4 linked regions of the Homo sapiens genome follow. The protein of the gene in region 4 interacts with the protein of the main gene of each other region in a pairwise test. Each region holds a gene or a part of one and is shown on either strand. Other genes may lie near its edges.

Region 1 (7,118 bases), on a different chromosome or scaffold from region 4:
GACTGCTGACCTAGACTGGTGCCTTAACACTTGATCTCTGACTCCTGCCTTGTCCTTATCACACAAATCTAATCCCTGATTCCAATGTCTGGAATAATATGCTCACTAGGAAAGGATCTAAGTGAGGAGAGGTGAACAAATACAATGGGTACTGGGGTACAGAATGTATTAAACAAATCTGCAAAGTAATCTCAAATATAGTATATTAATAACCATCATCATCTCTTTTACAAATTCACTCCTCACATTTCATCTTCATAAAATATAAACATGAAGAGGAATCTTAATAAGAAATTCTACAGAAAACAAATATATACATAATAATCAAACAGGCAATTTCTGTTGAAAAAATAGAGAACACCATAAAAGCACAAAATTTTGTTTTTAAAATTAGCTTGCTCACCTCTCATTTATTCCAGTAAAATAAATGGAACTACTTGCTAATGTTATTTACTTCAGGATGATTATTACTAAGAAAAATCGAACTACATACAATATTTGGCAAATATTTATTCAGCCACTATTATAAATCAGGCATTGAACAAGGGGACTTAGAAGACAGGGGTAATCCAACTTGTGTTCAAATTCTTTGACAGTTATCCAAATTGAGATGTTTACCTATGTCCTTTATATTAGGCTATGATCCAGAGCAGTAAGATCCAACAGAAATGTTAACATAAGCAACATATACATTGAAATTCTCTAGTAATCTCATTTTTTAAAAAGTAAAAAAAAGTTAATTCTAATATATTATTTAACCTAGCATATGCAAAAGTTATCATTTCAACATGTAATCATACTTTTAAAAGACTGATAAGATGCTGACTTTTTTGCATAATAAATCTTTTTTCAAAGCCCACTATGTATTAAACATACACTTACAGCATCTTAATTCAGACTAGCCACATTTCAAGTGCTCAACAGCCACGTGTAGCTCGTTGTTACCCTACTGGACAGGACAAATCTAGATGGTGCTTATTAAAGAAGAAAATACACTCTGGGTTATGCAGCTAAATTTTAATAATGCTTTATTAAGAAAATTCAATTATCTGTTCTACTTGGAAATCAATACATTCTCCTTTCTCTGAACTCTTCTCTTTAAACAAATCATTCCAGAGAGTATATATACAAAAGCTGCTAAGAAAAGGAAAGACTAAGAATGATGAATTAAATTGAACACTCCTTCTTCGAATTACACGTTTTCACTGTTTCTCGTTAAAAGAACGTAAGTTATATACATGCCTTCACAGAAACCAAATACATTTCTTAAAAGCAGACACGGAGGAAAATGAGGGGTCAACTATTATGAATGACCCTCAAGTCTTAGTAGATACTGTGAAATTAGACCAGAATATAATTAAAGCAAATAAATCAGAATCTATGCACCTAAAACAACTCTTTGACTTTTTTCTTTTTTTTTTTTTTTTTTTTTTTTGAGACAGGGTTGCACTGTGTCACTCAGGGAGTGCAGCGATATCGGCTCACTGCAACCTCCGCCTCCCAGGCTCAAGTGATCCTACTGATTCAGCCTCCGAAGTAGCTTGGACTACAGGCGTGCGTCACCGTGCCCGTTTATTTTATTGTAGAAACGGGGTTTCGCCATATTGACCAGGCTGGTCTCGAACTCCAGGGCTCCAAAGATCGGCCAGCTTCGGCCTCCCAAAGTGCTGGGATTACAGGCGTGAGCCACCACACCCAGCCCATCTTTGACTTACAGAGTTGATCTTACTACTTATATTTAAAACATTCAAATTCAGTTAGGAGCTAATAATGGGGAAGAATCTCTAGTTTCATTTAAAGTTACTTTTTTTCCAATCTAGACATGTATTTTCTGTTATAATGTGTAAGTGTAGCTTTTCAGATTCATTCTTTAAAGGATAGTTCATTCTCATGGCAAATATACTTAAAATGTTAACAATTTAAAAAAAAAAACAACTTTGCTTTATCTTACCCTTGGCCCAATTCCAGACTAGAACTATGTGAAGTCAACATTATTTGTGTAACAAACACAAGATCTCTTTATAGGTTAGGCCTCAGTTTCAAAAGCATCAATTTCACTGATTATTTCCTAAGACAGTGCCTGGCACAAGGTATTGTCTTAATAAATATTTTTTGAATGAATGAATATCAAGTAACAGGTACTAATTATTAATACTTCCAGCATTTCAAAATGAAATGTTAAAAAGTGGACCCTTTCAATTAAAAGGTTTTACTAGAGACCGTATAAAAATTGGAAGCTACATTACAGTTAAGAAAACACTATCACTTGTTCTCATTGAATACAATATTTCTAAAGCAGAGTATTATCACTCTCATTTAATATTTAAGAAAGGTGGGGCCAAAATGGTTGAGTCATGTAATTATTAAGTAGTGGAGCCAGATTTCAAGCCCACGTCCTCAAATACAACTGTGTGGAGGTGTGACTTGGAATGGAATGTGCGGATATTATGAAAACTATATTCCATGTCCCCCTCTTTTTAAAAGAATTTCCATTACAAAAGCTTCAGAGGAAAAACACACAATGGATAGTTTTCAATTCCACACACACACACACACACACACACACACACACACTTTTTAACAAATTCAAACCTATTTAAAATATAACAACGGTAAGCATTGTCAATCGCAACAGAAAGTCGACCAGACAACAAGGCTACATCCTCCAATCTCTCCCTCCCGGGACACCCTGGGAATGAAAGCATCCCTTGCGGCCTGGGATAGACTCGTCCAGGCGCGGGGAAAAGGCGGCGCCTCGCCCCTGGGGCGCAGCCATCTCCAACCCCTAGGACGGCCAGGACAGCTGGCTCCAGCCTACCTGACAGGCTCCCGCCACCGCTTGAACCAGCCGCAGCAACTGGCCATCAGACTGAACATCCCGGGTCGCTCCTCCCACCACTTCCCATCCGAGCCCGGAGCGGACACCGGCACCCCGCTCTTCCCCGGGGGCCTCCGGCACTCCGAGACGCCCCTAAAGTGGATAAGTCGGGAGGAAAAGCCGGGAGGGAAGTGAAGGCGGCCGGCCCGAGCACTAAGCCTTGCTAACCGCGTGGGTCCGCGACGACTGCCCTCTTAGCCAAGGAACAACCTGACCAAAGACGCAGATACACCGTAGCCGAGTTAGCGGGACCCGGCTAAAGAAAAGCCCCGCGTCGACGTGCTGACGTTACTTCGAGGCGCGGAAGGCGTTCCCCAGGCAACGCCCGTACTGCGCTCGCCCAATCATCGGTTGAGGTCCTGAGGTAGAGGCCTCTGAGTGGCTGAAGAGTCCTGGCTACCCGCCCCTGCGCGAGACTAGGAAAAGAGAAAGGGGAGTACTCTATAAGAAGGAGGCGGAGCTCGAGGTAGCTCGTTCTCGTAACTAGGCAACCGGAGCGTCCGGAGATAAGCTGGAGGATCCGGGACAAATCTCCAGCAAGGCCTATCTTTATACCTACATAAAATGTGTTGCCAATCCACGGTGCTGTTCCTTTCCTTTCTCCAGTGTCCCCAACTGAGATTCAGAGATCTCAGGTCTTGTGCATGGGTTTTTCTTTTTCTTTCTTTCTTTTTTCTTGTTTTTTGTTTGTTTGTTTTTTGCTCAGGGATGGGGACCCTCTAGAATTCTGGCCGACTTAGGCAGCATGACTACAGGAACAATACACTGGGGCAATTCTTGTAAGTTAAAGACAAGGGGGAAATTCGCTTGCTAAATTTTCTCAGTAGTTCAGATGAGAGTGAAGCCTTAATCTCTAAAACGTTTATTACTGTTACATATGTGAAACGGAATTGTATGATATTTGTTGTAGGGGGGATTGTGATTACAAAAGAAAAATGCATTTCTTGTAGAAAATGTGAAAAATACTAAAAAGAAACAAGATGAAGAAAATGAGATCTCACAGGAGCTCTCAAAGATAACCATTTGGGGCCGGGCGCGGTGGCTCACGCCTGTAATCCCAGCACTTTGTGAGGCCGAGGCGGGCGGATCACGAGGCCAGGTGATCTAGACCATCCTGGCTAACATGGTGAAACCCCGTCTCTAGTAAAAATACAAAAAAAAAAAAACAAAAAAAAACAAAAACGGGTGTGGTGGCACGCGCCTGTAGTCCCAGCTACGCTGGAGACTGAGGCAGGGGAATTGCTTGAACCCGGGAGGCGGAGGTTGCAGTGAGCCGAGATCGCGCCACTGCACTCCAGTCTGGGCAACAGAGCAAGACTCCGTCTCAAAAATAAATAAATAACCATTTTGATGTATGTTTGTTTCAGGATTTTTAGGTACATAAATTGCTGGCTATTTGGTATCTGCAAGATGAAGATTGTTATCTCTTGACTGTTTTGTAATAGTTTATTTTTTAAAGAGGTATGTAATATTTGCATTTCTTTTATATACTTTGGAGAAAAAGAAATGACAAGGACATTCCTGTAGGGAAAAAATTATGCACAATATGTAGGGATCTGTGTGTCCATTCATTTTCTACTTAAATAAATATTTTCAAATCCTGATGAAAGGATAGAAGGCACTGAGAATCCCAGTGTATTCGCGGGGAATATAATGATTTGAGACTAAGATACATATAGGTTTTAAATTAGTCTCTGTCCTTTACTAAATCATGTAACTTTTTTTGGTTTTGTTTTGTTTTGTTTGAGACAGAGTCTCCCTCTATCACCCAGGTTGGAGTACAGTGGCATGATCTCGATTCACTGCAACCTCCGCTTCCTGGGGTCAAGTGATCCTCCTTCCTCAGTCTCCCAAGTAGCTGGGACTAGAGACGTGCACCATCACGCCCAGCTGATTTTTGTATTTTTTGTAGAGACAGGGTTTCATCATGTTGCCCAGGCTGGTCTCAAACTCCTGGCCTCAAATGATCCGCCTGCCTCGGCCTCCCAAAAGTGCTGGGATTATAGACATGAGCCATGGCACCCAGCCTCATGTAATTTTAATTCAAATTTATATACATCTCATACAGCTTGCTATCTCCAAAATACTGTGCCTTATGGGGAACAAAGGGGGTGATACCTTTTCTTCTCATCATAACAGTCACAGCCAACACTCATATAACAAAAAGAATAGCAAGAGAAAAGCATAACAAATTTATTTAATCCAAGTTTTATGTGACATGGGAACCTTGCAAATGGAGATGCAAAGATGCAGGGAAGACTACCCATTTTTATACTTGGGTTCGATGAAGAATGAAAAACCCTGAAGAACTCTCATTGGTCAAAAAGGATATGACCTAATGAGAGCAGACTGTGTGGAGAAACTCAGCAAGGCCTGTCTGTTCAGATTCCTCTTGACCTGATTGTTCAGCATTCCTTCTTCCAGGGTATGGGGTAGGACCCTTTCTAGAATGGGAGTCTTAAGACGTACTATCAAACAATGCAAGTCAAAGAATTTATTTATGGGCAGGTCTTTCATGGAAAGGAAGAAGGTTAGAGTAATATTTTGGGGTTTGTGGCTGGCTTTGGGGAAAGGGGGTTGTGGTTTCTATAACTGCACCTGGAGAAAGAGGAATTATAGTTTCTATGGCTTGCATAGTGGGAGAATGAGGGGCAAGAGACGAGGAACAGAAGGTTAGAGACAGAAACTTTGCTTCTGAGGCCTTTATTCTGGGATATTTTCTTCTAAGCTCCAACAACCCTATCTATAACATGGAAATTAAAATACCTACTTTTCCAGGTTGCTAAGGTGATGAAATGAGAGAAATGAAGCTCAAGTGTAATTTCTGATAAATAATAGATAGCAAATTTTAAAGTTGGTGTCACCTGTCCCATAAACACTTATGGTATGTGTCCTCCTACCTCCAAATATCCATGGTGGGAGACAGGAGAGCAGGGCAGGATAAGACTGCAATGCTCCATTAACTCCAAGCCAATTTAGGACTGTTTCTGCTGACTCTACTTTCATGACTCACTTTCTTAAACTAGTGTCTTGCAAACCCTAAAGTTATATTGTTTGTATTCACTCTTTGATCCATTTACTATGATTGGGCTTCTGTCCCATCTAACTACTGAAAGCATATTTTTTGATATAACTTATATCTTCCTAATTACCAAATCGGTTTTCTTTTCTATTATTTAATATATATATAATATAGTTAACTTTTCTAAAACTGTTTCCTGCCTTGGTCTTTCACAGTTATGCACTGCACTACCCTACCCTGGTTCTCTTCTTCTTTGTTTTTTTAACTTATTATGGACCGCTTCATGAATTTGCATGTCATCCTTGTTCAGGGGCCATGCTAATCTTCTCTGTATCATTCCAATTGTTGTATATGTGCTGATGAAGTGAGCACAACCCCTGGTTCTCTTCTGATCTCCCAGGCCATTCCTCCTCTGGATTTCTATATGTAACTTCTAAGATATGACCTTACCCCTCTGCTTTTCTTTTTTAAAACATGTTGTCTTGATGGAATTTGATTATTATTTCTGTGACTGAAGGATCTCATGATGTGTATGTTTCTTGAGCATTTTTAGAACTATATTCAAGACTGTTTTTTCACAAATATATACTCAACACCAGTTTTGCAGTAAATCCTCATTTATCTTCATCCAGAGGTTCTTAGAAACTATAATTTTAAACAAAATAACATACAATAAAACCAATTTTACCACAGACAAATTGATATAAATCAATTAAGTTCCTGTGGCACATTTCTGGTCACAAAAACATCACCAAACTTCAAAATAAAGATGGAACCACTAGTAATAGTAAACATTGAAATAAATGTGAGCTATACATTAAGAAAGATGAATAACAACAAGTAAGATAATTATTTGTCCACTTATTCCAGTTCAGGATCATAGGTGGCATCTCAGGGTAAAAGGTGAGAACTAGCCCTTGACAGGACACCATTCCATCACAGGGTGCTCTCATACATGCCCACACTCACTTAGACTGGGACAGTTTAAACACACCAATTCACCTAACATCCACATCTTTCAGATGTGGGAGGAAAATGGAGTACCTGGAGAAAACCCATGCAGACGTGGGGAGAACATGCAAACTCCATACACACAGTGGCCTGGGCCAGTAGTTGATTTTATTTTTCTCAGCCATGTCATAATGAAACAATACTATTAAAGCATCTGCTCTACTTCATGCCTTCCCCATTTCTGCTAGTGATAACATTACCGAGCAT
Region 2 (7,162 bases), on a different chromosome or scaffold from region 4:
CACCTATGCTGTGACATGGACCCTTCAGTTCATGCTATAACCCTCTGTGCCATTGGTCCCAGGACAAGGCACAGATACCACATCCCACATTGCTGTTGTAACTAAAAGGCAGCAGGCCAGGCTCCTGCAAAGATCCATCCACCCAGGGCACATCAGGAAAAAGGAAGGCTTTAATGCAAAGTCTTACAACAGCTTTGGGGAATTGTTACCGATTGAGGTCTCAGCCTTTTCCTGACTCATTTTCCAAAGGTTTTCAACTTCCCCAGCTGTGAAGTTTGACTTGCTAAACAAAGAAGATACTACAGCTTTTCCCCAGTGTGGCTCCTGTGGAAGCTCCCCCAACACACACAACATCACAGGTGTGGGTGGGCAGAGATAGAAAAAATTTTTTTTTCTAAATGTTTTTCTCTTAAGGAGCTAGGGATGACCTCATGAAAGTTTAGGGAATCTGTTCTTCCCCTCACTCCTTCCTCATTCCCATCCAACTCAGACATGCTTCTCTTCCTCTACCACACTGAGAATTGGCAGGGCTTTGGGTACGGGTGTAGCATTTGCCTGAGGATTAATATACCCCCATTTGAAAATCGTGGCAGCCACGCCCTGTTTGGGGTCTTGCTCTCTGTTGTACCTGGGACCAATTCCCTTGAGGTCAGGAGGAATCCATTCCCTTGGGCAGCCAGCCCTCTCTTCCATCCCCTCATATCCTTCAGGGGTGCATTACCTCTCCTGGGGCAGAATCTCCCCACCAACCCATCCTGCTCACACCACAATGGGCGTATCAGAGAAGACCGAGCTGACTGATTCTGGATCCGACATCCTCCGTTGGCCCTTGCCTGTGGCCTCAGGCACTGGCAGGGTGTTGCCTGGCTTGAGCTTGCCGTTTTGACCCTGCCCAGGTCCAGCAGGTTCCAGGAAAGCCACCCGCCGGTCAAAACCATCATCTTTGTCCCCACCAGCCATAGGATCATGGTTGGGTGTGGTACTAAGCATGGAAGAGCTGAGGCTGTCTCCTTGATGGCTGGAAGGCTTCTCTACACCCCGGCACCAGCAGCGGCAAGGGGTGAGGTATAGGTATATGAGGACCAGGACCACACTAAGGATACAGCCCACTAGGGTGGTATAGGCTGTGTTGAGGGTGTCATGGTGTCCGTGCAAGGTGAAATTGTGCACTTTCAATTCCACAGACAGTGTCTCATTGAAAGTCTCTCCCATGGCATAGCAGGTATACACACCACCGTCCTCGACCTGCACCTGCTGGAAAAGAAGACTGCCATCCTTAGACACACTCACTGTGCCATTGGTCACCTCATCTAGCACCCGTTCATTACTTGGTGTCACCCACACCTTGGTCATCCCTTGCTGCTTGGTGTCACACTTGATGATCAAGGTGTCACCCAGGTGGGCCTCCCAGGCACGCTCCTTGTACTCGCCACAGTTGAGGAAACTCAGGTTGAAGACATTGTGCAGCTTCTTGGAGTTCATGCAGTACAGATCCTCTTGAAAGTCCATCACGGAGCTCAGCTGCCGATACTGCCAGTGTGAAAACAGCTGGTAGAGCTCACAGTCGCAGTTCAGGGGGTTGTTATGTAGGTACAGCCCATTCTTGATCCAGGCCGGCAGCTTCTGCAGGTCAGGCAATGGCAAGTTCTTCAGCTTGTTAGAAGAGAGATCCAGGAGCGTTAGTTTGGGTAGCTTGGCTCCTTCCTTGACCAGTTCCAGAGGGAAGCGAGAGATCTGGTTCTGGCTCAAGTAGAGTTTCTGCAGCTGGGCCATGTCATCGAAGGCGCACCGGTCCACCGCCATGATGTGGTTATTGTAGAGCAGCAGCACCTCCAGTACTTGCAGGTCACTGAACAGGAACTCATCCAGTGTACGCAGCTGGTTGGAGGAGAGGTCCAGGTAGCGCAGGTTGGGTACCGGGGAAAAGGCCTCAGAGGAGATGAAGTTCAGGTGGTTGTGGCTCAGCAGCAGGGAGTGCAGTTGGGTCAGGCGCGTGGGGGTCCACTCGGCCCGCAGGCGGCTCAGGTTGTTGTGACTGAGGTCCAGTAGTGCTGTGTAACTGGGCAAGGAATGGGGCACATTGGGCAGCTGCTGCTTGGAGCAGCTGAGGATGTTGCTGGCGCACAAGCAGGCGGCAGGACAGCTAACCACGGCTCGGCCAGCTCTGGCCACCTCAAAAAGCAGCAGGGACAAGGACGGCAGCAGGAGCCAGAGGCCTCTCGGGTCACGGTGGGGGTGCATAGTGTCACTGGAGTGGGCGAGGAAGGCCACAAGGAAGATCTGGGAGGAGGTCACCCGGGCATGTTCTGGTGGGGTACGGAAGGGTCACTTGAGAGAAAGAGGATGGGTTTGTGGTCACCAAGGACTCCAGAGGGAAGGACACCCTCTCCCACTTCCCCTCCCACCCTTACCTCCACCCCCTTTGGGCTAGGAGAGAGAGATGCTGGGTAGTTTCCAGGCACTGTGCAGGCAGTGGGCTGTAAATATCGGCCGAAGAGGAGGTGGCCCGAGGGCCTACTGGGCTGGGGTCACAGGGGTGCAGGCTGCAGGTATGCACAGGATGGCAGGGACTGCTGGGAGTCACAGGGATGGCACGGGCAGGGTTTGGAGGTGGGGTCGGTGTGCCTTTTGGGAGGAGCTGAGGGAAGGTCAACAGGGCACCGGGCTGGGTAGGACGCGTCCGGTCGGGGTTGAGGGTCCCCGGGGCCTGTAGGGGCGGGCTCCCCCCGGGGCCTCCGGTCACTGCACCTGCTCGGCGAGGACGTGTCTCAGCCCATGGCCGGTCTGGGAGCTCCGTCGCGGCCTCTCCCGGCGGCGCCTCACCGGCCGGCCTGTCACTGCGCCCACCTTACGCAGGGGCCCGCGCCCGGCACCGTCGCCTCCCGGGGACTTGCGGGGCCCCGCTCCGCTCACCCTGCCACCGCCTCGACCGCTGAGCCCGCCGGAGCCCACCGACCGCGGTCGCTGCCTCCAGGTCCGCAGGCCTGGCGCGGATCGGTGCGGGGAGCCGGAGGCGCAGCGATCCCAGCGGAGGGAGCGGCGTGGGGGCAGCGAGCACCGCGCGCGCGCCCGTCGCCGCCGCCGGAGCCTCGGGGCGCGTGCGCGCGGCGGGGGCGGGGCGCACGTGCGTGTGTTTGTGTCGGAGCCGGCCGGGCGGACGCGCGCGGGGTCGTTCCCTCAACCAGCGAGCTCCGGACGCTGAGCTAAAGACGAAAATTGGCAGGAAGAGCGGCACTGGCCCCTTAGGCTCCGCTATAACTTCCTCCATCCCCCATTCCCCCATCTCCCAGCACCCTTCTCGCTACACAGACCGGCTCTCAGGAAAAGTCTAACTAAAGTGAATTCGCTGCACCTACTCGGGCAAGAGGCGTCACATGTCTTTTAATTTCGCAAATTGAAGAAATCTGGCTCAGCTCCCGCCTGCCAATGTTGGCGGGAAATTCATTAGTCACATTCTGAGGTTCCCCCTCCCTTCTCTCTGTGGCTGTGGGGTCTCAAAAATTGGGGGAGGGGTTCCCCCCACCCCACCCCCGTCTTGATGCTACTAGTTCATGACCCTTGAGGTACCACTGAAGGGCACAGCTCCTTAGCCTGCAAGCCAGCTGCGCAGGAGTGAGGGGAAAGGGGGTGTTTGGTGAGCCCAGGCCCCAGAACACCCCTTTACAGACACCTCATGCACCTCTCCCCACTCCACCTGCTACACACACACACACACACACACACACACACACACACACACACACGGACTGCATACAAGCCAGGGACAATTTCCATTCCTGGAAACTCCGAAACCCTTCCCAGCCCGGAGGAAGTCATTCAGCCCTTAGGTCTGGCCACTTGCCTTCTTCCTAAACCAGTGCCAGCTCCCCACTCCCCTTATGGAGCAATTGCAACATAGTTTCTCTGTTACCTAATCCTCAAGATGAAGGCCAGTGGTGGAGGTGGAGGGGTTTCTTCTTTAGGGTGGCCCCTGAAACAACAAGAAGCTGTTACTAGTGTATGTTGTTTGGGTTTGGGGGTGAGGAAAGAGAGAGATGCAGGAAGAGCCTAGACCTTATCATTCAAGATGTTAGCTGTTCTTGAGATGGTGGACCATAAGAAATTACCTTTTTATTTGTTCCAGTCTCTTATAACAGCAAGATCAAGACTGAAATTAATGTCTCAGTAGATTAGCTTGCTAAGAGTTTTAAAAAGAATTTATATCTGTCACATGTTTTACCATGAATTTTAGTGAATATATTATCTCTTCAAGGAGTATTAGCGTGTTAATCTTATGCATAGTGTGAAAAGGTCTTTCTGCAAGGTGCAGTGGCTCACACCTGTAATCCCAGCACTTTGGGAGGCTGCGGCAGGAGGATTGCTTGAACCCAGGAGTTCGAGAGCAGCCTGGGCAACATGGTGAGACTCTGTCTCTTAAAAAAAAAAAAGGCATGGTGGCACGCACCTGTGGTGCCCACTACTTGAGAGGCTGAGGTCGGAGGATCACTTGAGCCCTGGAGGTCAAGGCTGCAGTGAGCCATGTTTGTGTCACTGCATTCCAGCCTGGGTGACAGAGCAAGATCCTGTCTCAAAAAAAAAAAAAAAAAAGAAAGAAAGAAAGAAAGAAAGAAAGAAAGAAAGAAAGAAAGAAAGAAAGAAAAAAGAGAAAGATGTTCTGTTCTGTTCATTTCAGGCATCATTGAAAAGATGAGGAGGGTAATCTTTTTGGAGGACAAGGTGTGAAGAATCTTGAAATCACATTGCATCAGTTATCTATTGCTGCATAATCACATTACCCCAAAACTTAGTGACTTCCTACAGCAATATACATTTATTGCCTTTCACAGTGTCTGTTGGTCAGATTCAAGAGCAGTCTGGTGGACAGTTCTGGCTTGGCAGTTTCTCATGCAGTTATGCGTTAGATGGAGCTACAGTCATTAGAAGGCTTCACTGGGGCCATAGAGGCTCACTTAAATTCATGTGGCTGGCTGTTGGCAGGAAACCTCTATTCTTATCCATAAAGGTCTCTCCACAAGACAGCTTGAGTTTCCTCACAACACGGTAGCTGACTTCCCTCAGAGCAAGAGATGCAAGAGACAGCAAGACAGAAGTCACAGTGATCTGGCTCTTTGAAGTGATGGATATCACCTCCACTTTGGTCACATATGCAATTCCTGATTCAATATGGAAGAACTACACAAGGGCACAAATACCAGGAAGAGAGGATCATTGGGACCATCTTGGAGGCTGGCTATCACACACATCATCTCTGAAGTTACATCTATTTTTTAATTTTGAGAATTTTCAAACATACACAAAAGTGAATAGTACAATGAACTCCCATATACCCATCACCCATTTCAATAATTATTAAAGAAATGTCATCATTTTATTTTGTACAAATATTCCTGAGAAACATATGCTCCTCTCACCCCACCCCTCATCTGCATGTTGCATATTTTCTTTTCACCCCAGTGTTGTTCCAGGCTCTCTCCTCTCCCTTTCCTCTTTATTTTTATTTTTTAGACAGAGTTTCGCTGTTGTCACCCAGGCTGCAGTGCCGTGGCATGATCTTGGCTCACTGCAACCTCCGCCTCCTGGGTTCAAGTGGTTCTCCTGCCTCAGCCTCCCAAGTAGCTGGGATTACGGATGCCTGCTACCATGCCCAGCTAATTTTTATATTTTTAGTAATGACAGGGTTTCACCATGTTGGCCAGGCTGGTCTCGAACTCCTGACCTCAGGTAATCTGCCTGCCTCGGCCTCCCAAAGTGCTGGAATTACAGGTGTAAGCCACCATGCCCGGCCTCCCTTTCCTCTTTCTGCTGTGTCCAAGGCGTGGGAGAGAGACAGATAGAAAGAAAAAGGCCCCTTATGATGGATACCAGTTTCAAGAGTGGGTGTCTACAATTTGGAAGGGTCACCACACGATATGTTCTTTAATCAGTCTCTTTTTTCAGCTAATCCATATCCTTTTAAAAGTAATCATTTTGGCTGGGTGCGGTGGCTCACCCCTGTAATTCCAGCCCTTTGGGAGGCTGAGGCAGGCAAATCACATGAAGCAGGAGTTCGAGACCAGCCTGGCCAACATGGCAAAACTCCATCTCTACTAAAAATACAAAAATTAGCTGGGCGTGGTGGTACATGCCTGTAATCCCAGCTACTCGGGTAGCTGAGGCATGAGAATCACTTGAACCTGGGAGGTGGAAGTTGCCGTGAGCTGAGATCATGCCACTGTGCTCCAGCCTGGGTGACAGAGACTCTGTCTCAGAATAAATAAATAAATAAAAATATAAACTAACCATATCCTTTTAAAATGTTAATGTGCAGACAAATCAGCGGGGTATCTTATAATCATGGAGATTCTGAATCACCAGGACTGGGGTGTGGCCTGAGATTCTGCTTTTCCAGCAAACTAACAAGATGATGCCAATGCTTCTTTGAGACCACATTTTAAGTAGCAAGGATCTAGAGTTGTGCTGCCTAATTGGTAGCCAGCAGCATTTGTGGCTACTTAAATTAATTAAAATTAAATATAAATCACTTCTTCAGTTTCCTTAGCCACATTTCAAATGTTTATGGCCATATGTGGCCAGCTACCCTGTTGAACAACGCATTGTCACAGAAAGTTTCATGATGGCACTGGTTTAGATAATTGACTCATAATAACTTTCCCACAGGTGCTCTTTAGACCGGAACAACTATTAATTCACAACAAAAGAAGATCTGGGCAAGATAAATAGCAACAGGTTATTTAGTGAGTATGTATTTCCATTTGCTGGAATGGACCAACTCAATATTCCTAAATGCAATTTGAGAGGTTGTTTGGTTAGCTCAGCACTTGAGCAAAAGCAGCTGGATGTGTCTCCCAGTTTATGAGACTGGATGAATTCCTTTTCTCCACACTACAAGTATTTTTTGCTTTCTTAATAGCTAATACTAGCCATCAGAATCAGAGTGGAGAAGGCTGGTAGCAGTGGCTTATGCCTGTGATCCCAGCACTTTAGCAGGTCAAGGCAGGTGGATCATTTAAGCTCAGGAGTTCAAGACCAGCCTGGGCAACATGGAGAAACCCTGTCTCTACTTAAAATACAAAAATTAACCAGGCATGGTGGCATGCTTCTGTAGTCCCAGCTACTTGGGAGGCTGAAGTGGGAAGATGGCTTGAGCCCAGGAGGCAGAGGT
Region 3 (8,155 bases), on a different chromosome or scaffold from region 4:
CTGTGGTTACACTGTAAGTTGACCTATCCACACTCACCTCTACTGTGTCTCTCCCTACCTGGTAGACAGCTGAACCTTTTCTAAGGGACAGGTTCCCTAGGGAAAGGGAGGCTAGTACTCTGGGTCATCAGTTTTACTTTTCCCAAGTCCAGCTCTCCCAGTGTCTACCCTCTGGATCTCTGCCCCACAGGGTCAGGGTTTCCCCTCCATTAGGTTCCCCAAGCTGGGGCCAGGCCTTTGCCTGACTTGTCAGTCCTATCTTGCCTTTTCTACTTCCTCCCTGACAGCAGAGCCCACAATGAAGAACAGGGAGAACATATGGGCAACCTATCCACGCCTCTCAGGGACAGTGGACAAGCTAGACACCCAAGAAAAAGCTCCTGCTTTTTGATTTCTGACTCTAGCCATTTGGGATCTCCCTGCTTCCTTTTTTACCTACTCAGCTAGGGACAGCATTCTGGCATTCTTCCATCCTCACAAAATCCACAGGGGATAACAGCTGCCCAAAAATAATCCCTTCATGTATATGTAATGTAACTATTATGCTGGTTGATCCTCCTGACAAAGGTGGGACAAGTATTACTGCTATTTTACAGATGAAAAGACTGAGCTACTGCCTAAGATCACAAACAAGGCAGAGAGAAAGCCAAGCTAGAATGCAGGTATGGTGGCCCAGCTCCCATTTCCATCCTCATTTGCACTAACCAAATCACTCCCCTCCCCCAACCCAACCCCAGATCTAGCCTGATTTAAAAGTTACAAGGTCAGTTCCTCCATCCCCTGGACAAGTCACTTCCCAGGACCCACTGTCCTAACAGGCTAATGCGACATCATCTCAGGTTCCCTCTGCACTACTGTGGCTTGGTTCCCTGAAGACACCTCCAAGCTCAAAATGGTGTTATCATGACCTTCCAGTGCCAGTATATGATTATTTTAGGATTATCATAAATAATATAGGAAATTAGAGGGAGAAAAAAGAAAGGAAGCAGTGGCAAAGGATAGGGAGTAAGCAGCTCCAGGAAGCTTTTAAGCCTGACAAATACTGTCACAGACAAACACTGTTACAAATACAGTCACTCACACAGAAGAAACTTCTGGGCTTAGGGGAAAAATACTGGCACAGTACAAAGGTTGGAAAAACCTTTAGTACCAGAACCACATAACCAAAAATTGACTATGGGTGTCACTAGCAGTTCTAAAATACAGGCAGAAGTAAAATAGGCAAGGGGTAGGGAAAAAAGGGAAATTAAAGAAAAGGGAACTCAAAGAGTAGAAAAAAAGGAAGACATGGCCAGCCGCGGTGGCTCACACCTGTAATCCCAGCACGTTGGGAGGCCGAGGCGGGTGGATCACCTGAGAGCAGGAATTCAAGACCAGCCCGACCAACATGGTGAAACCCCATCTCTACTAAAAACAAAAAATTAGCCGGGCGTGATGGTGCATGCCTGTAATTCCAGCTACTCGGGAGGCTGAGGCAGGAGAATCGCTTAAACCCGGAAGGCGGAGGTTGCGGTGGGCCAAGATGGCACCATTGCACTCGAGCCTGGGCAACAAGCGAAACTCTAACTCAAAAAAAAAAAAAAAAAAAGAGGGAGACATGAATGAAGAAGCTAGTGGGAAAGTAAGTTTAAAGGTAAGTAAGACAGTAGATTCTGAAGCAGTATCCCAAACAGTTCTTGTGCTATAGGGTGCCTGAGATGCTGGATCAAAGAATGGAAAAAGGAAAAGCAAGTCAAGAGGGTTTGGTTCCATTCCCAGGTTCCACCCCTAACTCTATTGTCATTGAAGTCATTTCCCCTTTTGGACTTGTTTCCTTATCAGTAAAATAGAAAGAGGATGATATATGCCTCTGGTCCAATCTCTCCCAAGGGTTTATGTTGTGATAAGGTAGAAATGAGCAGTCAATCCATCTAAGGGCAGGGAATCTACATACACCAAACTGATTGTAATCATTCATTTAACACTTTCTAAAACAAGAACCTTGGGGGTGGGGGGAGACTCATGTAGAACACATACTGACACAACTACTCACACAACGACACGCACACTCAAGAATCAGATAAACACACAGGTACTGCCACAGGTTGACTAACGCACAAACCAACCGACTAAACGCTCAGCCCCACACAAACACATCTAGAGACAGAGGCATGCCCTAGCAAGTGAGCCTCATTGTTCCTCAGGAAAGGGAGTTTACAAAGGAAACAAAAACTCTCATACACAGCCAGAGGGAGGGCAGAGCTCTGGCTCTGATGAGAATCCAGCCAACCAACAGATACACTCTCCCCCTGGGAAGAGTCACTCAATCAACAACACGTATTAAGGACTCCTGAGGTAGTTATTCCATAAAGGAACTTCGCTGGAACCTCTGCTGCGCTTAGAGAAATTTCAGGTTTCTATTGCATTTCCTCTTTAGACTGTGCACCCAGACATTTTCCCAGAGCAACCGCCGCAATTCAAAGATTCAGAAGAGCCAGAGACTCCTTCAGCAAAAGCTAGGGGAAGAGACTTCCACCCCAGACCACCTCCATTTGATTTTCTTCGAAGACCGTTAAAGGAGCCAAGGCTCCCGGCTGCGCAGCGGGGTTCGTGGATGCTGGGTGGCCGTTGGAGGGGCAGGCTGGCCCTTCCCAGGTGCGTGTGGAGCGCGCGCTGGGTAGATGAGTGTGGAAGGGTCCTTGGCCCGACGGCCCTCTCCAGTGAGGACGAGGAGTGTACCTCTGGTGTGTGCAGATGGGTCAGCTCCCTCCTGGTGGCCGTGAGGGGTGCGGTCACAACTCACCAGTGTGGGGGAGGGGAGCCAGCCACTCACCCAGCTGTGAGAGTGGTGAAAGAGGGACCAGCCAGGGGTGGAAAAGATAATTCGCAGAACGATATAGGAAGGTTTCTGAGCTCCTCCCCTCCCGCGGGCTAGGGGCGTGGGGAGAGCCTTCCTCCAACCTCTGACCCGACCAACCGATTCCTCCCGAAACTCTGGGAACTTACACAACAGGATCGCCAATATGAAGAGGCACAACAGTTTCCTCTCGACTTGCGCCTTTGTCCCCATCGCGATCAGGCTCCCGACACAACAGCCGCCGAAGGACTCCTGGGAACAGACACAGCTCCGCGACTACAGCGAGGGGACTGAGAGCCAGCCGCCAGGTGGAACCCCGCCCGGCCCCGCCCTCCGCGCCTGATTGGCCAGCTCCCCACCCCTGCACGTTCCGATTGGTGTAAGGAACCGCTGCTCTTCAGAACGAGTCACCTCGGCCAGGTGTTACCCCGCCGCCACTCCCCGCCTCGGCGCACTGGCGCCTTTCCCCACAGGAGCTGCCTCAGATTGGCCCAGGAGACTGTCGCGTCAGGAGACGAATTCCGCACCTTCAGCAGGTGACGGCCCCCTGATTGGTTGGTGTTCCCGAAGTAGCGACTTCCTGACTGGCTGGGTTCTCAGTTGGAGCTAGAGGGCTGAGAAGTACCTCTAAGGAGGAAGTAGGAAAGGCAGTCGTGGTGTGGGATTTACGGAGACCGGCTTGGCTTGGGGTTTTGTGTTTGTTTGAATGTAAGTTGCTTGGTGCAACTGCACCTGCAGTTTGGTCCTGCAGAAACTTTGGTCCTGCCTCTTGGCAAGTAAAAAACAAATATTAATATGGGAGGGTAGGGGAGAAGACCCGGAGAGAAATGGAATGTTACTTTGGCACCACCTCCAAACTGTTCCTCTGTCCACCCCACCGGCTTTGAGAGATGAGCTACGCTGGGAGGAAGAAAGGGGAAAAAAAAGGGAAAGGGAGCACTCAACTGGAAAATGGGAGCCTGGGCAGTATAGTCCCAGCTACTTGGGAGGCTGAGGTGGGAGGATGGCTTGAGCCCGGAGGCGGAGGTTGCAGTGAGCCTAGATCGCGCCACTGAACTACAGCCTGGGCGACAGAGCCAGACCCTGTCTCAAAAAACAAACAACAACAACAAAAATTTAAAAACCCACAACAACACAACTTGGGAAGAGCAGAATTACGTTATCTCAAGAAGAAAGTTAAACAGATGTACACAAAACACACCCAGATGATACAAACTGAGCTGAACATGCTCTAGAAACATCTCTGGGTGACTGGATATGTCCTTTACACATATTTGATCTGTGAACAGGTCCCTACATTTCAGAATTGTTTGTTTTCTCACTGTGACTAATAGTTGTGTGCTGACTAAGCCACCTTTTTTCTATAGACAATGTTGATACTCAAACTTTCTGTTAATATTTATATTGCTACATCATTTTTAATTGAAATTCATGCTCAACACCTTTGCTAGTTGTAGTTTCTATTTTACGATGATTTAATTTTAACTGTACTAAGCATATGCAGACTGTGGGGAAAAAACTTCCTTAGCATTACCTCATTGCAAGGGAAAAGACCACATTTTTATCCAAAAGAATGATATTGTTTGACATTTTGCCTTTTTCACCTTTGCTCTCATTCCTTTGTCCCCATCTCTTTGGCCAAAGTTCTGCTTCTGGTTCCATTCAATTTAAACCACCTACTGGGTGCTTAATAGTCTTGGCCGGGTGCGTGGCACACGCCTATAATCCCAGCACTTTGGGAGGCCGAGGTGGGTGGATCACCTGAGGTCAGTCTGACTAACGTGGTGAAACCCTGTCTCTACTAAATACAAAAAAAATTAGCCGGGCGTGGTGGCACATGCCTGTAATCTGAGCTACTTGGGAGGCTGAGACAGGAAAATCGCTTGTACCTGGGAGGAGGAGGTTGCAGTGAGCTGAAATCGCGCCATTGCACTCCAGCCTGCTGGGCATCAAGAGCGAAACTCCGTCTCAAAAAAAAAAGAAAAGAAAAGAAAGAAATTTAAAGTCTTGGAGAAAGGTATATACACTGACAGCTGGGCTCTGTGACGTGTGCCTGTAATCCCAGCTACTCAGGAGGCTGAGGCAGGAGGGGAGGATCACTTAAGGCCAGGAGTTTGAAACCAACCAGGGCAACATAGGGAAAAGACTCTGTGTCTAAGAAATTTTATTTATTTATTTATTTTTGAGACGGAGTCTTGCTCTGTCGCCCAGGCTGTAGTGCAGTGGCGCGATCTCTGCTCACTGCAAGCTCCGCCTCCCGGGTTCACGCCATTCTCCTGCCTCAGCCTCCGGAGTAGCTGGGACTACAGGCGCCCGCCACCATGCCTGGCTAATTTTTTTTTGTATTTTTAGTAAGACGGGATTTCACCGTGTTAGCCAGGATGGTCTCAATCTCCTGACCTTGTGATCCGCCCGCCTCGGCCTCCCAAAGTGCTGGGATTACAGGCGTGAGCCACCGCGCCCAGCCTATTTATTTATTTTTATTTTTATTTATTTATTTGTTTTTTGAGACGGAGTTTCACTCTTGTTGCCCAGGCTGGAGTGCAATGGCGCGATCTCGGCTCACCGCAACCTCCGCCTCCCGAGTTCAAGCGATTCTCCTGCCTCAGCCTCCCTAGTAGCTGGGATTACAGGCATGTGCCACCACGCCTGCTAATTTTGTATTTTTAGTAGAGACGGGGTTTCTCCATATTGGTCAGGCTGGTCTCAAACTCCCGACCTCAGGTGATCCGCCCACCTCGGCCTCCCAAAGTGCTGGGGTTACAGGCATGAGCCACCGTGCCCGGCCTTTATTTATTTATTTTATTTTTGAAACAGGGTCTTGCTCTGTTGCCCAGGCTAGAGTGCAGTGGTGCAATCATGGCTCACTGCAACCTCCACCTCCTGGGCTCAAGCAATCCTCCCACCTCAGTCTCCTGAGTAGATGGGACCACAGGCGTTGCCACATCCTGCTAATTTTTTCTTTCTTTCTTTCTTTTCCTTCCTTCCTTTCTTCCTTCCTTCCTCTCTCTCTCTCTTTTCTTTGTTTTTGTTGTTTTGTTCTGTATACACGATGTCTTGCTATGTAGCCCAGGCTAGTCTTGAACTCCTGAGCTCAAGTGATCCTCCCACCTCAGCCTTCCAAAGTGCTGGGATTATAGGCGTGAACCACCATGCCCCGCCAGAAAATTAAATTTAAAATTTTTTTTAATAAAAAATTAGCTGGGTATGGTGGTGTAACCTGTAATCCTGTACTCCGGAGGCTGAGACAAGAGAATCACTTGTGCCCAGGAATTCGAACCTGCAGTAAGCTATGATTGCACCACTGCACTCCTGCCTGGGCAAAGGAACAAGAAAGATCCTGCCTCTTAAAAATATAAAAATAAATAAAAATAAATTTAAAAAGCATGCATTCACAAATATAATAATAGCCATGTTACACTATTGAGTTATATTCAATTTACAGCATACTAAAATGGGTAAGCCCTTTATTTTCACTTGAACTACTGTTAAATTGGGTCTCCCACATCCTATACTTATGCATTTTTTTTTTCAGATGGAGTATTGCTCTTGTTGCCCAGGCTGGAGTGCAATGGCGCGATCTTGGCTCACTGCAACCTCCGCCTCCCAGGTTCAACCGATTCTCTTGCCTCAGCCTCCCAAGTAGCTGGGATTATAGGCCACCACGCCTGGCTAATTTTGTATTTTTAGTACGCGGGGTTTTTCCATGTTGGTCAGGCTGGTCTCGAACTCCCGACCTCAGGTGATCCGCCCAACTCGGCCTCCCAAAGTGTTGGGATTACAGGTGTAAGCCACTGCGCCCAGCCGCATTTCTTTCTTAACCAAAGTACATTTTGCATTGATCTCTATTCAATTTTATATTTTCTGTTTTGAAAATATTAATAATGGACAAGTATACATGAAATATTGTTAATAACTAAAATGAAAAAAGTAAATACAAACAGTGTGCACCTCAGTTATTACTATATAAAACATCTGCATATACAGTTACAAAGCATGAAGGTATTTTAGAGCATGCAAGTAATTTGATGTTCATCAGATTCTTTTTCCCATAAAGTTGCTTAAATGTATAATAAATGTTAAAATTTCATTGTCATTGACATTTGTTTTCCATAGTCCTTCAAAACAGATTTGTAAACTACAGACTGATTAGTTTGTCTGTAAAGTAGAAAATTATGGAAGGAATTATTCAACAGCCCCACGCACACACAAAAAAATAGACTGTGACTATAGACAGTTCAATTGAAATTCTGCAGAGAAGGCCAGCAGAGAAAAGGAGCAACAGCTGTAAGGGATGTTGAATAAACGCAGAGTAGGTATTTTGTTTAGATGGAAATACTTGTGTGCTAATAGCAATGATCCAGTAAAGAGCAAGAAATTAATCGTGTGGAAAAGAGAGGCCAGGCACAGTGGCTCATGCCTACAATCCCAGCACTTTGGGAGGCCAAGGCAGGAGTATTGCTTGAGCCCAGGAGTTCCAGACCGGCCTGGGGAACAGAGAGAGACAAAAAATAAAAAATAAAAAAAAATTAAAAAATTAGCCGGGCATGGCAGTGCCTGTGGTTCCAGCTACTCCAGAGGTTGAGGTGGGAGGATCCTTTGAGCCTGGGAGGTGGAGGCTGCAGTGAGCCATGCTCATGCCACTGCATTCCAGCCTGGGTGACAAAGCAAGACCTTCTCTCAAAAAGGGGGTGGGGGAAGAACAGTTATGGTATCAAGTAATAGAGGAGAGAAGAGATGGCATCCTGAGCTCAAGTTGAGGGTTAAAAGAAAGCAGAGAAAACTAGCCACCACAACGAGAGAAGCATGTGGTACAGCTTGTAGATTTGTTGGTGAGAAGATAATGGCAATTTCTTTGATTTCTTCAGAGGTAAACTCATTAGCTTAGAGTGCAGAGGAAAAAGGAAGTTTAGGAAATCTAGAGAGTAGGGAGAAGTGGAGACTGAAAAGGTACACACTAGTGACTGGGCTCAGTGGCTCACACCTATAATCCCAGCATTTTGGGAGGCCAGGCCAGGCGGATCACTTGAATTCAAGACCGGCCTGACCAACAAGGCAAAACCCTGTCTCTACTAAAAATATAAAAATTAGCTGGGCGTGGTAGCTCACGCCTGTAATCTCAGCTACTCGGGAGGCTGAGGCACAAGAATCACTTGAACCCAGGAGACAGAGGTTACAGTAAGCAGAGATAGCACCACTACACTCCAGCCTGGGTTACAGAGTGACACTCTGTCTCATAAAAAAAGGATACACACTAGAGAAGGGTGTTAGAAGCTGGGCGTGGTGGCTCACATCTGTAATCCCAGCACTTTGGGAGGC
Region 4 (7,223 bases):
TGCCAGTAGGAGAAACAAAGCTTGAGGATCCAGATCAGAGCTGAGGATGGATCCTCCAAGGTCAGTCCCCGAGTCTGGGCCAAAGCCACTTGTTACATCTCCCATCTTCTGGCCTCATTTTACCTCCTCAGTCCTGGCTTCCTTTCCAATCTGCCTCCTTCCTCTCATGATCTCTCCTGCCCATTCCAATCCCTTCTCTTCCCCTATCACCTCCCTCTAACCCCCAACTCCCTTGCACTGTTATTGTTTTTTTTTTTTTTTTTGGCACGATCTTGGCTCACTGCAACCTCTGCCTCCCGGGTTCAAGCAATTCTCTTGCCTCAAGCCTCCTGAGTAGCTGGGATTACAGGCACACATCACCATGCCCAGCTAATTTTTTTGTATTTTTTAGTAGAGACAGGGTTTTACCATGTTGGCCAGGCTGGTCTCAAACTCCTGACCTCAGGTGATCCTCCCACCTCGGCCTCTCAAAGTGCTGGGATTACAGGCATGAGCCACAGTGCACAGCCTGCTGTTTTTTTTTTTTTATTTTGTTTTGTTTTTGAGACAGGGTTTTACTCCTGTCACCCAGGCTGGAGTATAATGGTGTGAACTCAGCTCACTGAAATGTCCACCTCCCAGCCTCAAGCAATTCTCCTGCCTTAGCCTCCCAAGTAGCTGGGACTACAGGGGCATGCCAGGGCACCCAGCTAATTTTTTTGCATTTTTTGTACAGACGGGGTTTCACCATGTTGCCCAGGCTGGTCTCGAACTGAACTCGAGTGATCCACTGGCTTCGCCCTCCCGAGGTGCTGAGATTACAGGTATGAGCCACTGCGCCCGTCATCTCCCTTGCATTTCTATCATCATCTTCCAACTCAGGGAGGACTGTGATTCTATTCTCTCTGAGTCTCCCCCCATGAATTATCTCTGACTCTGACTTACCTACCCTTCCCCCATCCCCTTGTCCCTTTCCCTCTCTCTGATCCTCCACTTCCTCTCCACTATCTAATTCTACCCTAACTGCCACCTCCTGACCTGGCCCTGACCCAGGGGCTGGGGAGCTGGCACTCACCCCACAGTCAGTGGCCACCGTGTACTCAAAGTGGAACACCAGGGACCAGATGATGCAGAAGAAGAAGCCGAACACAGGAAAAGTGATGGCCCACCAGACCATGGCTGTGAAGCGAAGCCGGAACAAGGTCCCATCGGGGTCCAAAGGCTGGGAGGCCGCAGAGAACATCCTGCAGGGCGTGGCCTAAGCAGCACGAGGGATACAACTTGGGGCCTGGTAGGACACCTGGGTCTGGGAAAGTGGGGCCTTTTCCAGAGATGGCTCCTCAGAGTATAAGGAAAAGCCAGAGCAGAAAGGGTAGAAAAGGCATAAGGGGAAAAGGAAGACAGTGCAGAGGAGAAGGATCAGAGGGAGATGGGGCAGGAGCAGCAGAGACAGGCAGGGTCAGAGCTTAGGAATCCCCCTGGCACAGTGATACTCTAGGTCCACCTCTTGAAGAGCCTACAGAAGAGAGGCTCCCGGTGGCTTGGACAGGGAGCTCTGGTGGCCCACCTCACTCTCACAACCCTCATAGCCACTCAGGAGAAGGGTCAGAGGTAGAAAGGTTATTATTCCCATTTCACAGAAGGGGAGACTGAGGCCCAGAACTATGCCAGGATCAAACACCAGGACTAAGGCCTCTTGCCACCTGACAGCTTCAGGTTCTAAGTCATGGCTTCTTTCAGGCCAACTAACAAAGGACCGTTGGCTCAGAATGGCCAAAGCCCTCCCACTGACCCTGTCTGACCACATTCCTGTTCCTTACCCAAGTTCAACTAGGAACAGAGGGAGTGCCCCAGAGCCTATTTCAATGGGGCCACAGGCTGCCAGCCATTCCACCCCCAGGCTCTGAATGATCCAAGCCTCAGGCCAGCGGTACCCTGATCCTAAAATACCAGGTCCCTGTGGAAGCCCAGACCTACATCTCCTCCCTCTCTGAGGAGATGCAATGTCACCCAATCCAAGGTTTGGGGGAATCTGAGGGTCATGGAAACCTTCTCCACTGAGCTTGAGCCTGCTGTCCTGGGCCAGACCCAGGAGATCTCTGTCCAGGTCAGACCCAGACCCAGGGAACTGAGCTTCTTCCAATCTCTTCTCCCTCCTGGCCGACAACTCCCCCTCACAACCCCACTGCCCAAACACCTTGACCCCTCAAGCTGGGCTTCCCTCTGGATCAAGCTGAGGCAGACAGAGATGGCTTGATATTAAAAGGCCTAGGACCCAATCTCCCCTCGGCACTCATACTTCCCTCCACTAAGGAGACCCAGGAATGGGGTGGGGGCCTCATGAAGGAACACTCACACTCGGTGCTGAAGAATCCGGGTCTTGGGTTGAAGGTTGTAGCCAGACTGGGACTATTCTAAGACTGGAGGATCCCACCCCCTGCTCCTCAGGGCCTGCCCTCCCGCCCACAGTACCCAATTCTCCACGCCTGCCCAGGCACACATCCTTCCCAGGATCAACAAGCATATGTCATAAATCCTAGAACACTCTGCAAAGGGAAGAAGTGATAGTGGCTGAGGTCAGCTGGCAGTAGCTTCTTTGCCAGTGATGGGGGCAGGGACCTTCCTGAGAGTTGTATCCAGGGTCATAGGCAGGTTTCCAATAAGGGAAAGAGAGAAAGCAAAAAGGGGTCTGGCCGTTTTTTGTTAGAGCAGGACTGAGAGGGCTTGTTGGGCCTCACTGGAGAAATGGCTAAATCCTATGATGACAGAAGCAGGATACAAAAGAGATCTCAACAAGCCTGAATATGAGATATCGATGTTCAGCCTGTACCTGTGCAGAAACAGCTAATAGCAGCTCAGGCTGCCTCAACAGAGGTCTAACAGCCAGGAATAAGAATGAATAGTCCTGCTTTTGCCTGTACTGCCCAGGCCACCTGGAGTTCTATACCCAAATCAAGGCCCAGCAGAGAACAGTGACAAACTGGGCCAAGTTCAACGGTACATTCAGGATAGGGAAGAGCCTGGAAACCATTTCCTTGGAAGGTTGCCTGAAGGAACTGGATTGCCTGAGGTCAGGAGTTCGAGACCAGCCTGGGTAACACAGTGAAACCCCGTCACTACTAAAATACAAAAAGTTAGCCAGTCATGGTGGCGGTGTGCCTGTAATCCCAGCTACTCGGGAGGCTGAGACAGGAGAATCGCTTGAACCTGGGAGGCGGAGGTTGCAGTAAGCCGAGATCGTGCCATTGCACTCCAGCCTGGGTGACAAAGCGAGATTCCATCTCAAGAAAAAAAAAAAAAGAAGAAGACAGACTCAAGGCCCCTCATTACTGTCTTCTTGTCTCTACAGGGCTGACCTGAAGCCACGAGGAGAGAATAGTTCTACGGCAAAGCAGAGCCAGGGCCAAGGCAGAGACTCACCGGAAAGTAAGTACATACTCACTATAAGTAAAAGCTTCAGCCTGGCCAGCATAGTGAAACCCCATCTCTCCTAAAAATACAAAAAATGAGCCAGGCACGGTGGTGCATGCCTGTAATCTCAGCTACTCGGGAGGCTGAGGCATAAGAATGGCTTGAACCCAGGAGGCAGAGGTCGCAGTGAGCCAAGATTGTGCCACTGCACTCCAGCCTGGGCAACAGAGCAAGACCCTGCCTCAAAAAGAAAAGAAAAGAAAGGAAAGGAAAGGGAAAGGGAAAGGGAAAGGGCAAGGGAAAGGGAAAGGGAAGGAAAGGAAGAAAAGAAAGAAAAGAAAGAAAGAAGGAAAGAAAGAAGGAAAAAAAGAAAAAAAGAAAGAAAGAGAAAGAAAGAAAGAAAGAAAGAAAGAAAGAAAGAAAGAAAGAAAGAAAGAAAGAAAGAAAGAAAAGAAGGAAAGAAGGAAAGAAGGAAAGAAAAAGCTTGGGCTAGGCACAGTGGCTCAAGCCTGTAATCCTAGCACTCTGGAAGGCTGAGGCAGGAGGATCACTTGAGCTCAGGAGTTGAAGACCAGCCTGGGCAACATAGTGAGAAACTATCTCTGTTAAAAGAAAAAAAAGAAGAAGAAAGAAAAAAAAAAGAGGCTGGGCATGGTGGCTCACGCCTTTAATCCTAGCACTTTGGGAGGCCAAGGCAGGTGGATCACCTGAGGTCAGGAGTTCGAGACGAGCCTGGCCAACATGACGAAACCCCGTCAATACCAAAAATACAAAAATTAGCCAGGTGTGGTGGCGGGCACCTGTAATCCCAGCTACTCAGGAGGCTGAGGCAGGAGAATTGCTTGAACCCAAGAGGCGGAGGTTGCAGTGAGCTGAGATCACAACACTGCACTCCAGCCTAGGCGACAGAGTGAGACTACATCTAAATAAAAATAAAGAAAGAAAATAAAAGAAAAAGGCTAATTATTAGTTATTAAGCTTCCTTAGAACAGGCTACCTGGGGAGGAAGGAAGCTCCCCATCACTGGGGATATGCGAGCAGAGGCAAAGTAATCAATTACAGATATGATGGACTAGCTTGCTTCTTTTATTCCTAGGGCTGGCCATTTCTGGGATACTCTGAGTGGGAAATTCAGAGCAAATATAAAAATTCCAAGGTGGAACCAACACCGTAGGCTCAGGCAGTGGGGACAACATACCCTCAGGGTCACAGACCTAGTACTGCTCCAGAGGGACCAAGTACTCCAGCAACTATCTATATCTTAATTCCCTAACTGGTATGCCCAGAACAGGTAATAGGTATGCAAGGTATGCAATAACCTAGCTAATAGGGTATTGATGCCATCAGCCCTTGGGGTCAGCCATAAGGGGCAGAGCAAACAGCCTAGTCTGTTTAACTCCATATACTATACAAATATTATAATTTTGCTTGGACTATGATTGACTTATACCATGCCTTCCTTTCCCCAGGGCACTGGGCTAGGGAGTCTTAATCATTTATTCAACCAACACTTTCTGGCCAGGCACAGTGGCTCACGCCTATAATCCCAGTGCTTTGGGAGTCGAGGTGGGAGGATCACTTGAGGTCAGGAGTTCAAGACCAGCCTGGGCAACAGTGTGAGACCCCGTCTCCACACACATACACAAAAATTAGCTGGGCATGGTTGTGCATACCTATTGTCCTAGCTACTCAGGAGGCTGAGGCAGGAGGATTACTTGTGCCCTGGTGGTTGAGGCTGCAGTGAGCTATGATCATGCCACTGCACTCCAGCCTAGGCAACATGGCGAGACCCCATCTCCACAATTTTTTTTTTAATTAAGCTGGGTGTAGTGGCTCACATCTGTAGTCCTAACTACTCAGGAGTCTGAGGTTAGGAAGACTGCTTGATCCCAGGAGTTTGAGGCTGCAGTGAGCTATGATCATGCCACTACACTCTGGCCTGGGTGACGGAAATGAGACCCTGCCTCTAAAACAAATAAAAAAACCCAAATACTTTCTCACTCAAATGCAGTGCCTGCCTTCAAGGAGATCCCCATCTGGTTGGGAAGACAGACACAAATATGATGTGATAGATAACACAGGGAACTGTGGGCACCCAGAGGAGGGAGTGATTACATTAGCCCCAAGGAGGATAGGGAAGACATTTTAGAGCTAGCGGGGCAGGGTTTTGCGGGATGATCAGGAGTGGCTAGCGTAACAGGAATATCTGATGCATTATCTGAGATAATAGGTACTAGGTCATGTACTAGGTCACAAAAGGGTACTCCTTCCCTTCAGATCGCCTGTTCGCCCTTTTCGTCCAGTTCTTTCTAATAGCTCCCAGCCCCAGGTCTCATCAGATTGGGTGTCCATACCTCAACACCCATGTCTACCCACTGACAAATCAGGAGGAGAGGAAACTCCAGTCACATGAAGTAAAGAAGTGGGGCTCCACCCCATACTCACAGCTAGACCCCACTGCTAATCCTAGCCATTTCTCTGAAGCAGATGCTCTTTACATGAAGTGGGGATCCAGCTGGCTGGGGCCTTCAGAACTCTGAGGGACCCCAATGGTCCATGCGCAGAATCTGCCTCTTCTCCACCTAAAGCCCCTAGGTTAAGTTCATTTCCTGCCCTGCCTTCCAACCTGACAGTCTCTTCCTCCTCCTCCTTCTGCTCCTCACATTTCATCATCCTCCCTAAACTACCTTCCTATCCTTCTTCTACCTAGAGCTCTACACTAGCCCTGGGAAGGAGCAGGACAGGAATTATCAACCCTATTTTATTTTTTAGAAATGGGGGTCTCACTATGTCATCAGGCTGAAGTACAGTGAGAAAACCATAGCTCACTCCAGCCTCAGACTTCTAGGCTCAAGCAATCCTCCCACCTCAGGCTCCTGAGGAGCTAGGACTACAGGTGCATACCCCCATGCCCAGCTAATCAATTCTATTTCAGACATGAGGAAACTGAGGCTGGGTCTCTGTCTCAGGTAATATAGAGTCAGTAAATGAATTACAAGTATAACAGAGTTTGACATATGTCCCACCCCACTTACTTTGATATCCTAGAGAAAGTGGTCTTACATCTTTCTTCCTGGCCCCGCACCCCATATCCCTGTCCAGAGGGTACACAGACATCTATGGAATCTTAGAGGCCACGGGACTCACCCCAGGACACATACACACGTACATAATCAGATCTCCATACAGACAGGCACAGATATAGTCTCTCTCACACACGACCCACTCAAACCCATTATATACAGTCATGACCCTCACAATCACACACACATATACTGAGTCACATTCCTACAGAGACAGGCACAAGCCCATAGTGCTACATTAAGAGGCCCAAAATACCCTCTAGCCCAATCCTGTTCTCTCTCCACTTCCCAGAAACCCTGGGGTTCCAGAATCTGCTCTTCTATGAAGTAAGGATTTGGCTCTAGGTCTGCCCTCTGGACAGGGATATGGGGCGCGGGGCCAGGAAGAAAGATGTAAGACCACTTTCTCTAGGATATCAAAGTAAATGGGGTGGGACATGTGTCAAACTCTGTTATACTTGTAATTCATTTACTGACTCTATATTACACTTCAGTGACTCCAGCCTCCAGAACCTCACAGAAGGCAGAGGGAGACTAACCCTTGAGATTTCAATTTGCAGGCATCCCCCCAGCAGCCCCGTATGTTTGATGGGCCCCAGTGGAGAGCTGGCTAATCTTGTTAAAAGATATTCAAGATCTAAAGAAGATCCAGATCGGCCTGAATATGAGGTATCAGTGTCCCCATGCCCTACCCCACAGTGTGTGGCCGTTGTCTCCTTGAAGTGGAAGAGCAGGGACCAGAGGATGCAG

What was found.
Region 1: the proteins of PGAP2 (region 4) and ARL13B interact in binary tests that used the Homo sapiens proteins (3 or more experiments, as listed by UniProt).
Region 2: the proteins of PGAP2 (region 4) and AMIGO1 interact in binary tests that used the Homo sapiens proteins (3 or more experiments, as listed by UniProt).
Region 3: the proteins of PGAP2 (region 4) and F11R interact in binary tests that used the Homo sapiens proteins (3 or more experiments, as listed by UniProt).

Annotation. Positions count from the first base shown.
Region 1 is NC_000003.12:93,976,183-93,983,300, reverse strand, and holds the start of ARL13B (ADP-ribosylation factor-like protein 13B), read right to left. Parts: upstream 3,147-7,118; 5' UTR 2,878-3,146; coding exon 2,819-2,877; intron 1-2,818. UniProt on the Homo sapiens protein: Cilium-specific protein required to control the microtubule-based, ciliary axoneme structure. May act by maintaining the association between IFT subcomplexes A and B. Binds GTP but is not able to hydrolyze fit; the GTPase activity remains unclear.
Region 2 is NC_000001.11:109,506,672-109,513,833, forward strand, and holds the start of AMIGO1 (amphoterin-induced protein 1 precursor), read right to left. Parts: upstream 3,057-7,162; 5' UTR 2,749-3,056; intron 2,329-2,748; 5' UTR 2,242-2,328; coding exon 760-2,241; 3' UTR 1-759. UniProt on the Homo sapiens protein: Promotes growth and fasciculation of neurites from cultured hippocampal neurons. May be involved in fasciculation as well as myelination of developing neural axons. May have a role in regeneration as well as neural plasticity in the adult nervous system.
Region 3 is NC_000001.11:161,018,025-161,026,179, forward strand, and holds the start of F11R (junctional adhesion molecule A isoform 1 precursor), read right to left. Parts: upstream 3,129-8,155; 5' UTR 3,050-3,128; coding exon 2,986-3,049; intron 1-2,985. UniProt on the Homo sapiens protein: Seems to play a role in epithelial tight junction formation. Appears early in primordial forms of cell junctions and recruits PARD3.
Region 4 is NC_000011.10:3,811,367-3,818,589, reverse strand, and holds part of PGAP2 (acyltransferase PGAP2), read right to left. Parts: coding exon 7,166-7,223; exon of another isoform or gene 7,034-7,165; intron 3,406-7,033; exon of another isoform or gene 2,504-3,405; coding exon of another isoform or gene 2,336-2,503; intron 1,286-2,335; coding exon of another isoform or gene 1,238-1,285; coding exon 1,055-1,237; intron 1-1,054.